2 separate regions of the Homo sapiens genome follow, and region 1 is linked to region 2. The links come from fine-mapping of genetic effects on gene expression. A gene starts in region 2. The other region holds a variant in brackets. All regions are shown on one strand. Distances are between the middles of the regions.

What was found. PIP is the estimated chance that this variant, and not a neighbour inherited with it, causes the effect.
Region 1: its variant is the best candidate, but not a certain one, in a credible set for the expression of PLPP2 in visceral fat (GTEx, PIP 0.70).

The regions. Positions count from the first base shown.
Region 1 is chr19:315,170-320,533 of GRCh38, reverse strand. All of the region lies in intron 7 of MIER2 (MIER family member 2), which reads left to right. Among named protein-coding and RNA genes, the nearest start is that of PLPP2, 26 kb to the right of the region's middle. The variant C/T (reference allele first, on the strand shown) is at 3,331.
Region 2 is chr19:289,079-294,426 of GRCh38, reverse strand. It overlaps PLPP2 (phospholipid phosphatase 2), which reads left to right and starts at 3,024. Exons shown (of 6, transcript NM_003712.4): 1 at 3,024-3,142. The coding sequence starts at 3,091. RefSeq lists enhancers at 1-430, 3,130-3,827, 3,858-4,371, 3,828-4,526.

The DNA.
Region 1 (5,364 bases), 26 kb before region 2:
GCGGCCAGCTGTGGCCTGGGGGTTGGGAACCCCTGCAATGACACATTTTTTAAAATTTAAATTTTATTTATTTATTTTTAATTTAAATTTTATTTACGTATCTATTTTTTAAATTTAAATTTTATTTATTTATCTATCTATCTATTTAGTTTTTTGGACAAAGTCTTGCTCTGTCGCTCAGGCTGGAGTGCCGTGGCGCAATCTTGGCTCACTGCAACCTCTGCTCCCGGGCTCAAGTGATTCTCGTGCTGCAGTCTCCCGAGTAGCTGGGACTACAGATGTGCGCCACTGCACGCCGGCTAATTTTTTTTTTGTTTATTTTGTAGAGACCAGGCTTCATCTTGTTGCCCAGGCTGGTCTCAAACTCCTGGCCTCAAGTGATCTGTCCGCCTCAGCCCCCCAGAGTGCCGGGATTACACTCATGAGCCACTGCACCCGGCCTGCAGTAAGGCGTCTTTAAGTGGACACCTGAAACAAGTTTATGTATTGATTGCTTGATGAAAATGCTGTGTATCCCCTGGTGCAGTGATTACATGCTCGCTGTGAGCACCTGGATTAATGAAAATCAACATATACGTATTTAATCCCTTCCCTCCTCAGTTTGATGTGCTCACATTTATGATTTTTGCATGTATGTTCATGGAGGTACTGGCCTGTCCTTTTATTTTTATTTGTCCGTGTCTGGTTTTGGTACCAGAGTTATGCTGCTTTCGTGAATGTGTTTGGAAGTGTGCCTTTTTCCTAACCTCTGGAGGAATTATTCTTTAAGATGTGAGAGGCCAGGAGTGGGGGCTCATGCCTTTAATCCCAGCACTTTGGGAGGCTGGGGTGGGCGGATCACGAGGCCAGGAGTTTGAGAACAGCCTGACCAACATGGTGAAACCCTGTCGCTACTAAAAATACAAAAATTAGCTGAGCGTGGTGGCACGCAACTGTAGTCCCAGCTACTGGAGAGGCTGAGGCAGGAGAATCACTTGAACCCGGGAGGCAGCGGTTGCAGTGAGCCAAGATTTCGCCATTGCACTCCAGCCTGGGTGACAGAGCGAGACTCCGTCTCAAAAACAAAAACAAAAAGTTTTATCAATTGTATTACTCTTTACAAAGGACTAACTTTAGCCTTGTTCATGTCTCCCTGTTGCTGGATTTCTGTTTTTTACTTTTTGTGTGTGTGTGTGACAGGGTCTCGCTCTATTGCCCAGGCTGGAGTTCAGTGGTGCAATATTGACTCACTGGAAACTTCGCCTCCAAGGTTCAAACGATTCTCCTGCCGCAGCCTCCTGAGTAGCTGGGACTACAGGCGCCCGCCACCACGCCTAGCTAATTTTTGTATTGTTAGTAGAGATGGGGTTTCACCATGTTGGCCAGGCTGGTCTCAAACTCCTGACCTCAGGTGATCCACCCACCTTGGCCTCCCAAAGAGCTGGGATTACAGGCATGAACCAGCACCCAGCCTTTTTACTGATTTTTTTTTTTTTTTTGAGACAGAGTCTCACCTGTGGCCCAGGCTGGAGTGCAGTGGCGTGAACTCTGTTCACTGCAAGCTCCGCCTCCTGGGTTCACGCCATTCTCCTGTCTCAGCCTCCCAAGTAGCTGGGACTATAGGCGCCCACCACCACGCCCGGCTAGTTTTTTGTATTTTTTAGTAGAGACGGGGTTTCACTGTGTTAGCCAGGATGGTCTGGATCTCCTGACCTCATGATCTGCCCGCCTCGGCCTCCCAAAGTGTTGGGATTACAGGTGTGAGCCACCGCGCCCAGCCTCCTTTTACTGATTTTTAATTGAATTACACTGTGGTCAGAAAACATACTCCGTGATTTCAGTTCTTTGTAATTAGTTGCACCTCGCTTTATGTCCATTATTTGATCTGTTTTGGTAAATGTTGTACGTGTTTGAAGAGAGTGTGCTGTGCTGTTGTTGGGTGGAATTTTCCGTGTATTCCCTTGGATCCGCTGGATAATTGTTGTTCACATCATCTGTATTCTCACTTAATTTTTTTGGCTGCTTGTTCTATTTACTGAAAGATTGTTAATGACCTCCTCTGATTGTGGATTGTCTATTTCCCCTTTTTAATGCTGTCCATTTTTACTTCACATTGTGTTAAGTGCATACACGTTAAGATTGCTTTGTCTTTGTGTTGAATTGTTTCTTTTACCATTGTGACGTGTCTCTCTGTAGTAACACTTCTTACCGTAAATAAGTACTTAATCTGCCATCAGTGTGACCACAGCAGCTTTTTGTTGATTTGTTTAGTGTTTGCATGGTTTTTTCCCATTCTTTTTTCCATTCTAGATTCCTATATTTGAAGTGTATTTTCTGTAAATGGCACATGTTTAGATCTTGTTTTTTGAGACGGAGTCTCTGGAGTGCATTGGCATAATATCCACTCACTGCAGCCTCCGCCTCCCGGGTTCAAGCAATTCTTCCCCCTCTGCCTCCCAAGTAGCTGCAATTACAGGCGTCCGCCACCATGCCCAGCTAAGTTTTGTATTTTTAGTAGAGATGGGGTTTCACCATGTTGGCCAGGCTGGTCTCAATCTCTAGACCTCAAGTGACCTGCCCACTTCGGCCTCCCAATGTGCTGGGATTATAGGTGTGAGCCACTGTGTCCGACCTAGATCTTATTTTTAATTGTCTGAGAAAACCATTGTCTTTTAATAGACTTTTTAGTCCATGTACATTTTTTAAATCACTTGTATGTCATGTAATTATAAAACAATTGTGTAATGCCACCATCTTGCTCTTTGCTTTCTGTGTGTTCCATCTGTTCTTTGTTTTTTGTTTGTTTGTTTTTTTTTTTTTTTTTGAGACAGAGTCTCACTCTCATTGCCCAGGCTGGAGTGCAGTGATGCGATCTTACTTCACGGCAACCTCCACCTCCCGGGTTCAAGTGATTCTCCTACCTTAGCCTCCCAAGTAGCTGGGATTACACGCATCCGCCACCATGCCTGGCTAATTTTGTATTTTTATTTTATTTATTTATTTATTTATTTATTTATTTATTTTTTCTGAGACAGAGTCTCGCTTTGTCACCCAGGTTGGAGTGCAGTGGCGCGATCTCAGCTCACTGCAAGCTCCGCCTCCCGGGTTCACGCCATTCTCCTGCTTCAGCCTCCTGAGTAGCTGGGACTACAGGCACCCGCCATGACTCCCGGCTAATGTTTTGTATTTTTAGTAGAGACGAGGTTTCACCGTGTTAGCCCGGGTGGTCTCGATCTCCTGACCTCGTGATCCGCCCGCCTCAGCCTCCCAAAGTGCTGGGATTACAGGTGCCCGCCACCGCGCCCGGCCTAATTTTGTATTTTTAGTAGAGATGGGTTGTCTCCATGTTGG[C/T]CAGGATGGTCTCGATCTCCTGACCTCGTGATCCGCCCACGTCGGCCTCCCAAAGTGCTGGGATTACAGGCGTGAGCCACTGGACCTGGCCTGTTGTTTGTTTTTTAATTTTTTTATATCTTCTTTTGGATTAATAGGTTTATTTTGTCCTTCTGTTTCAGCTTATAAGTTTTAGTTTTAGCGCTTTAGAGGTTACAACATGAATTATTGACTTATCACAGTCTACATTTTTTTTGAGATAGAGTCTTGTTCTGTCGCCCAGGCTGGAGTACAGTGGTGTGATCTCGGCTCATTGCAACCTCCGCCTCCTGGGCTCAAGCGATTCTCCTGCCTCAGCCTCCCAAGTAGGTGGGACTACAGGCACACGCCACCATCCCCAGCTAATTTTTGTATTTTTAGTAGGGATGAGGTGTCACTGTGTTGGCTATGCTGGTCTTGAACTCCTGACCTCCAGTGACCTCAGCCTCCCAAAGTGCTGACATTACAGGAGTGAGCCACCACACCGGGCCTCACAGCTTGAAATAAGTACATTCTAGTTCCCCTACAATGCAAGAAACAGTTTAACTCAATTTACCTGCCCCCTGCCTTTTGTGCTATCGTTAATTTTACATATGAGCCGGCTGTGGTGGCTCATGCCTATAATCCGAGCACTTTGGGAGGCCGAGGCAGGCAGATTGCCTGAGGTCAGGAATTTGAGACCAGCCTGGCCAACATGGTGAAACCCTGTGTCTACTAAAAATACAAAAATTAGCCAGGCGTGGTGGGCACCTGTAGTCCCAGCTACTCGGGAGGCTGAGGCAGGAGAATCGCTTGAACCCCGGAGATGGAGGTTGCAGTGAGCCAAGATCGCACCACTGCACTCCAGCCTGGGGGACAGAGCAAGACTCCATCTCCAAAAAAAAAAAATCTACATATCACAAGATGATAACATTGTTGTTTTAAACAGTGAACATTCTTTGTATTTATCCTATCCACATATTTCCTCCAGCTTCCATTTGGAATCATTTCCTTCAGCCGGAAGAACTTCCTTTGTAATAGGCCTTGTGCTTTCTTTCAGCATTTTTTTGTCTGAAAAGCCTGGATTTTTGCTTTCATTCTTTAAAGCATATTTTCATGGCATGTTTTTCCAGGTTTGCAGGGTGTTTTCTTTCAACACTTGAAAAATTTCACTCCATTGCGTTTTGGCTGTCATCGTTTCTGTTGAGAAGTCAGAGGACGGTCTTACTCTTTCTTCTGAAGTCATTGTGCCCTTTTCTCTCCTAAGAGTTGTTTCCTTTCCTTTATTTGTTTGTTTTTCACCAGTTTGGCTCTCCTGTGCCTGTGCACACGTCTTCGTGTGTCCTTGTATTCGTCCTGAGTTTCCTGGCTCTGTGGGTTGGTATCAGTCGTCAGTTTTGAAGAATTCTTGGCTGTTACCTCTTCAGATTTTGTGCTGCCTCCTTCTTTGCTTTCTCTGTCACTCATTTACACGTATCTTAGAGGTTGCCTCACTGTCTTGTACTACCCTAAACGGTGTTCTTTCCTTTTACACTTTGGTTTTGGTCTTGTAAACATTGGTTTCCTTTTGATTCCACTAATTGTGTTTTGTGCTGTGTTCAGGCTGCTGGTAAAAAAGCTGTTCAGTGGGTCCATTCGGGTATTGTATTATCCAGTCCTGGAAGGTCCTTGAGATTCTTTTCTATAAATTTCAAGTCTCTGCTGAGACTCTCCGGCGTTTTGTCCATTTCCTTAACGTATTAATCCTCGTTAGATTGAAGTCTTCGTGTGCTGACTCTTAACATCGGCTGTGTGTAGACCTGCTTTGTTGTCTGATGTGTTCTTGTTTTGTTTGTTTGTTTGAGACGGAGTCTCGCTCTTCTCGCCCAGGCTGGAGTGCAGTGGCGCGATCTTGGCTCACTGCAACCTCTGCCTCCCGGGTTCAAGTGATTCTCCTCCCTCAGCCTCCCGAGTAGCGGAGATTACAGGCGCCCATGACCACGCCCGGCTAATTTTTGTATTTTTAGTAGAGCTGGGGTTTCGCCATGTTTGCCAGGC
Region 2 (5,348 bases):
TGCTGTGACCCAGTGAAGACCTCCTCACAGACAGAGCACAGCAGACTCGCGGTGCTGAAACCCGGAGGGTTACCCTGTCCCTGACTGACTGTAAGGTTACACTAAATTAAGAGGCACTCCAAGGATTGCAAAGTCCGAGGGGAATTTTGAATTCGTGGGTCCTGGATTGTGAATTTGAAGGCAGCGGTTTCCAACCCTTTTAAATCTTGACCCCAGGAAGAAGTACCTTCTACATCTTGACCCAGCAAACACGTGATACCTACCCACACTGTATTTTGTTCAATTAACCCTCAAATGATGTTTCCTAATGTTTGGCCCTGGGTCAAGCATTTCACAAACTATTTAATCTTCTCTACAATCCCAGGTGGTAGCTACTGTCTTGCCGCCTTTATGCAGACAGAGACTGAGGGATACCTTAGATGTCTTTCCAAACCATCCACCCCCTCAGCCTTCCCTGCCCACTGCCTGCACGTCAAACCCACTGACGGGCACTCGTTCGACTCCAAGAGCCCCGTGCCAGGAACCTGGGAGACAACTCCCGTTTTGACTCTGGGCAAGGTACTTCACCTCTCAAGTCCCAGAGAAGCAGAGAAAGCAACGGCAGGTATAGTGGCTGGCTGCACTTAGGTGGCACCTACTGTGTGCCAGGCCCCCTTCTGCCCACTTCACAGGTGTCTTAGTCTCCATAGAGTCCATTTGGAAACAGGCCCGGAGCCATCCAGGTTGCGATGAGGCACCAAGGTGGCAGAGCCAGTGCTGGGCAAGAGGCGGGAGCTGCAGTTGCTGAACCCGTGAGCTTGCTTGCCTGGGAGTGGCGACCTGGCCCTCAGGGGTTGCTTGTCTCTAGGGGACCCAGCCTGGGTACATGTACCACCACCCGCTTCCAGCTCTGCTATTTGCAGGTGAAGGAGAAAGCCACTGAGGCCTGGCCTCCAGGCCAGGCTCTGTCCCTGCTGGGAGCTGCCCTGGCCTCAGGTTCTTCCTGGAAGGGAGGACCAGGCAGCTGGGGGCAGCAGCAGATCCAGCTATGAAAGCCGTGACAAGAAGTTCCTTGAAGTGTGGTGGGCTGCAGTCAGCATATGTAGGAGACGACCCCAATCCTGACCCTAATCCTAATTCTTGCTTTCCCCACCAGATTTTAATCCTTATCCTGCCCAGGGATTTTAAGGGCTAACCCAAATCCTGACCCAAGGGGAAGGATGGAAGGGGGAACAGCCTGCAGCCTCACCTCCACCCTCTATCCTCCCAGGTCTACCTCCACCCCTCTCCTGGGTCTCTCCCTCTTGGCTTGGCCCCATCCCACAGCCCCCACTGTCTTCCCCCCGCTCCCACTTTGGCAGGCCCCTCCAAGTGACCTCTCCCTTGCTCCCCAGCACACAGTAGGTGCTCAATGAAGAACACCGCCTTTCCTTGACTCCAGTAGATGTTGCACCCTCTCCATCTTAGGAGAAAATGTGCGTTGGCTGTCAAGACTACACTGACAGCAGTGGTCACTCATTTGCAGACAGGGTGAAGTGTGGGGGAAAGCGCAGTAGTGACGCTGAACCCTACATTTATGTAGCATTGATGCTAGGCACCAGAACCCTCACAATCCTAATTCCGACGGGAGCTAGAGCCCCCCCACCCCACCGTGAGTGCAGCAAGGGAGCACCTCAACCCTGCCCTTGGAGGGCCACAGGTCAGCTTGCACCGTCTTCCCACCCAGCACCACTCTGGGTGCCTTTGCTGTCTCCCAAGAGCCCCTTGCCCTTGGAGTTCCCTCATGATGCCCCCCTGCCCCACGTGCAGGTGTCTGACCATCCGGGAAGCAGGGTCGAGGAGCTCCCAGTTGAAGTCCAGTTGCTGAGACGCACCCTGTTTTGGTGTTGCTGGGGCAGGGGGCTGATGGTGGTGCTGAACGGGTTTTAGAGGAGGGTCAGGGTGGCAGCGGATCTGGGGCCCAGCAGCCTTGTTTCTGACCCCAGGCCTGCCACTTCCCATTTAAGTGACCGTGAGTGGCAGAGGTCAAGGCTGGACTCCGGAAACGTGGGTCTGACACTCCTGAGGCCTCCCGGATGGTCCCAGCCGAAAGGACCCAGTGTGGGTCCCTTGGGCCTGGGTTTCCCTGGCTCAGGTGCCCTCAATCCCCAGGCACCCTCAGCTCAGGGCTCCCCACGACCTGGTGGGGGCACAGACCCCGGCGCCATTTCATGGGGTTCCCAGCTCCTGGCGCCCCCGTGCTCTTCTGTGAAATGGGACAGCAAGTGCGCTGATAGGAACGGTGCCTGGGCACAGGGCTGCGCCTGGACACCCTACGCCGTCGCAAGGTGGGTGCCGAGGAACTCGAGCTTCTAACGTGCCAGGGGTCCAAGGACGCGCCAGGATTTTGAGTATTAGGAGAAAAGAAACTCCTGAAATGAAGCCACGTCGCCCCTTCCACTTTAAGGTGCCTCCTGCTGTCGGAGTTTCCAGGCGCACACGGCGCGGCTGCCACTCCCTGAGGAGGAAAGTCGGGAACCGTCCCGCGGGGCCGGTCCCGCCGCTGCTCGTCCTCCTTCTCCACGTCCCCGCCCGGGGCTCCGCCGGCCCGACCCGCGGGGAACCTCCAGCCTCTGAGGACCTCACGCCGCTCGGAGACCCGCACAGCCCGGGTCAGGGCCGGGACTCCGGGCGGACGAGGTCCCCGTGGCGCCCGCACGCTCGCCCCACCCGCTCTTTTGGGCGCCGCGGCCAGGCGGGGGCAGAGTCCGCGCGGTCCCGGGTCCGCCGCGCCCCGCCCCCCCCGCTGCTCCCCTGCCCGCCGCTGCCGTCCCCCCTCCCTCCTCCCCTCCCCCCCTTCTTCCCTTCCCTCCCCCTCCCCCCTCCCCTCCCCGCCCCTAGCCCTCCCCTCCTCCCCTCCCCCTCCCTCCTCCCCTCCCCGCCCCTAACCCTCCCTCCTCCCCTCCCCTCCCCTCCTCACCTCTCCCCTCGTGCCCTCCCCGCCCCTCCCCTCCTCCCCTTCCCGCCCCTCCCCTCCTCTCCGCGCGGGGCGGGCTCCGCGCCACGTGACTCCGCGGCCGGGCCGGGACGCGACGGGACGCGCTGGGACCGGCGTCGGGGGTCGCGGGGACCATGCAGCGGAGGTGGGTCTTCGTGCTGCTCGACGTGCTGTGCTTACTGGTCGGTAAGAGCCTTGGGGACCCGGGTGTTGGGGGGACCCTCCCGGGACGGACACGCCCCCGGCTGCGCGCAAGTTTGCAGGGGAACGCGGAGGCTGCGCGCCCTCGTCCCTCCGAGGACCCTGGAGGCGGGGACCTCGCGTGAGGACCAGACCTCCCTCCGCGCCCCGCACTGCGCGCGCCCTCCCAGGCTCGGGGGTCCCCGCGTCCCAGGCCCAGGGGGATGGGGGTCGCGAGAGGCCCGGGGAGCCGGGGCCAGCATCCCCCGCCCCGGCAGCAGGAAGTCTGTGCGGAGGGGCCGCGCGCGCGCCTCCATCCCGCCCCGCCTGGCCTGGGAGGTGAGTCACGCGGGCCCGGGAGGTGGGGGCGGCCGCGGGTTACCCCGGCAGGACGTCCGCGCCTCCGCCCCTGGGGTGGGCGCTCCCGCTGCGCGCGGAGAGGGCTGACCCTCGGTCCTGGCACCCGGTGCGTCGGCGGGATTCGAACCCGTGCACGTGCGGGGAGGCCCAGCCGCCCTGCTGGCTCGGGCGGGGGAGACACTGGGGATGAAGGCTGGGTCCCAGGCTTCGGGTGAACGGGGTGGCGGGGGGCCGGGAGGCCAGGAGAACCAAACCTGTCCGGCGGGTTTGCGGGCCACACTGGCGGAATGGGCATCCCGAGGCCCCCCTCCCGCAGGGTCCCGGGAACAAAGGCCGAGTGTTTGCTCTGTGGCTGCACAGACAATGGCCCTGGAATTCTATCTCTGGGGGGTGCCCTCCTCCCCAACGTGTTTCCTGCTTCTCTGCCATCTCACAGCAGAGGCCAAGTCCTCTTACCTCCGGAAGGAGACCCTTTTTTAGGGTGGGCCAGGTGACAGCAAGAAGTCCCTGTGGGTGTCTGCCAGCCCGTGGTACCATTTCCTGAGCACCTATGGTGTTATTTATGTAAACATTTAGGTGGCACTTTCTGTATGCCAGGAACTAAGCAACATGCAAATAACAAACATTTCCCTTACAACAGCCTGTGAGGGAGGTGCTGAGTCACCTGCCGGAGGTCACACAGCAGCGGGAGGTACAGCCGAGATGGGGTTGGCTGTTGCTGCTGTGTGCCAGGGGTGGTGGCCAGGCCGAGTGCACCTCTATGCTGGAAGCTTGAGCACACCACAGTTCAGTCAACACTGAGGTTCCAGATGCTGGCATGAGGGCAGTGTGAGGGCGGGAGGGCTCCCGGGGGCTAAATGAAGAGAAGGTGTCTGTTTTGGGGACCCCAGGGAGAGCTTTCCAGGCCGAGGGAAGCCCGGCGCCTGTCGTTATGGGGGTGCCTGCGTCTCTAGTTGGAGTTGCTGGGGCAGGGAGGTCGGAAACGGAGGCTAACCTGTGTGAGCCTCCGCCCGATAAGAGCTGTGGTCGGGCTGCACTCCCTTCTGGGCATCTCGTAACCCTGACTTTCCACCCGGCCGGCAACTGCAGGAGCCTCCTCCAAGGCCTCTCCCTTCACAGCAGCTCCAGCCCCTCCTGTGTGGGAGCAGAAGGCAGGTTCTTACATCCCGCCCTCTCCGCCGTCCTGCCCTGCCTCCAGGCCCTGGCGCTGCCCTTTTTTTTTCTTTCTTGAGACAGAGTCTCGCCCTGTCGCCAGGCTGGTGTGCAGTGGTGCAATCTCGGCTCACTGCAACCTCTGCCTCCTGAGTTCAAACGATTCTCCTGCCTCAGCCTCCCGAGGAGCTGGGACACCGCCACACCCAGATAATTTTTGTATTTTTAGTAGAGTTGGGGTTTCACCGTGTTAGCCAGGATGGTCTCGATCTCCTGACCTCGTGATCTGCCCGCCTCGGCCTCCCAAAGTGCTGAGCCACCACGCCGGGCCTGCCCATTCTGTTCTGCATTCCCTCACCTTTCTTGCTCGGTGAGGCAGGCCTCTGTTTTCTTCACCAGATTATTTCCCCAGACTTAGCCAGCATGGAAGGTGTACGGTGTCCTAGGGCCCTTGGAGTTAGCATGTCGGGAGGAGTGTGGGGCTCCCTGCCCCTCCGCTGACATTCAGAACTTAGAAAAGCCACACCCTTTTGTACTTGCCCTGCTGGGCCAAAGGATGCCCTGCCTTGGTTTGTCTCTGGGCTAGCCGACCCGGGCTTTTGTTGTGCGCCTGCCCTCTGCCCCGTTCTCCGTAGATGACTCCTGCTTCCCTGGCCACCCTCAGCTCAGCAGGGCCCCAGGAGCCCCAGTGCCATGGCAG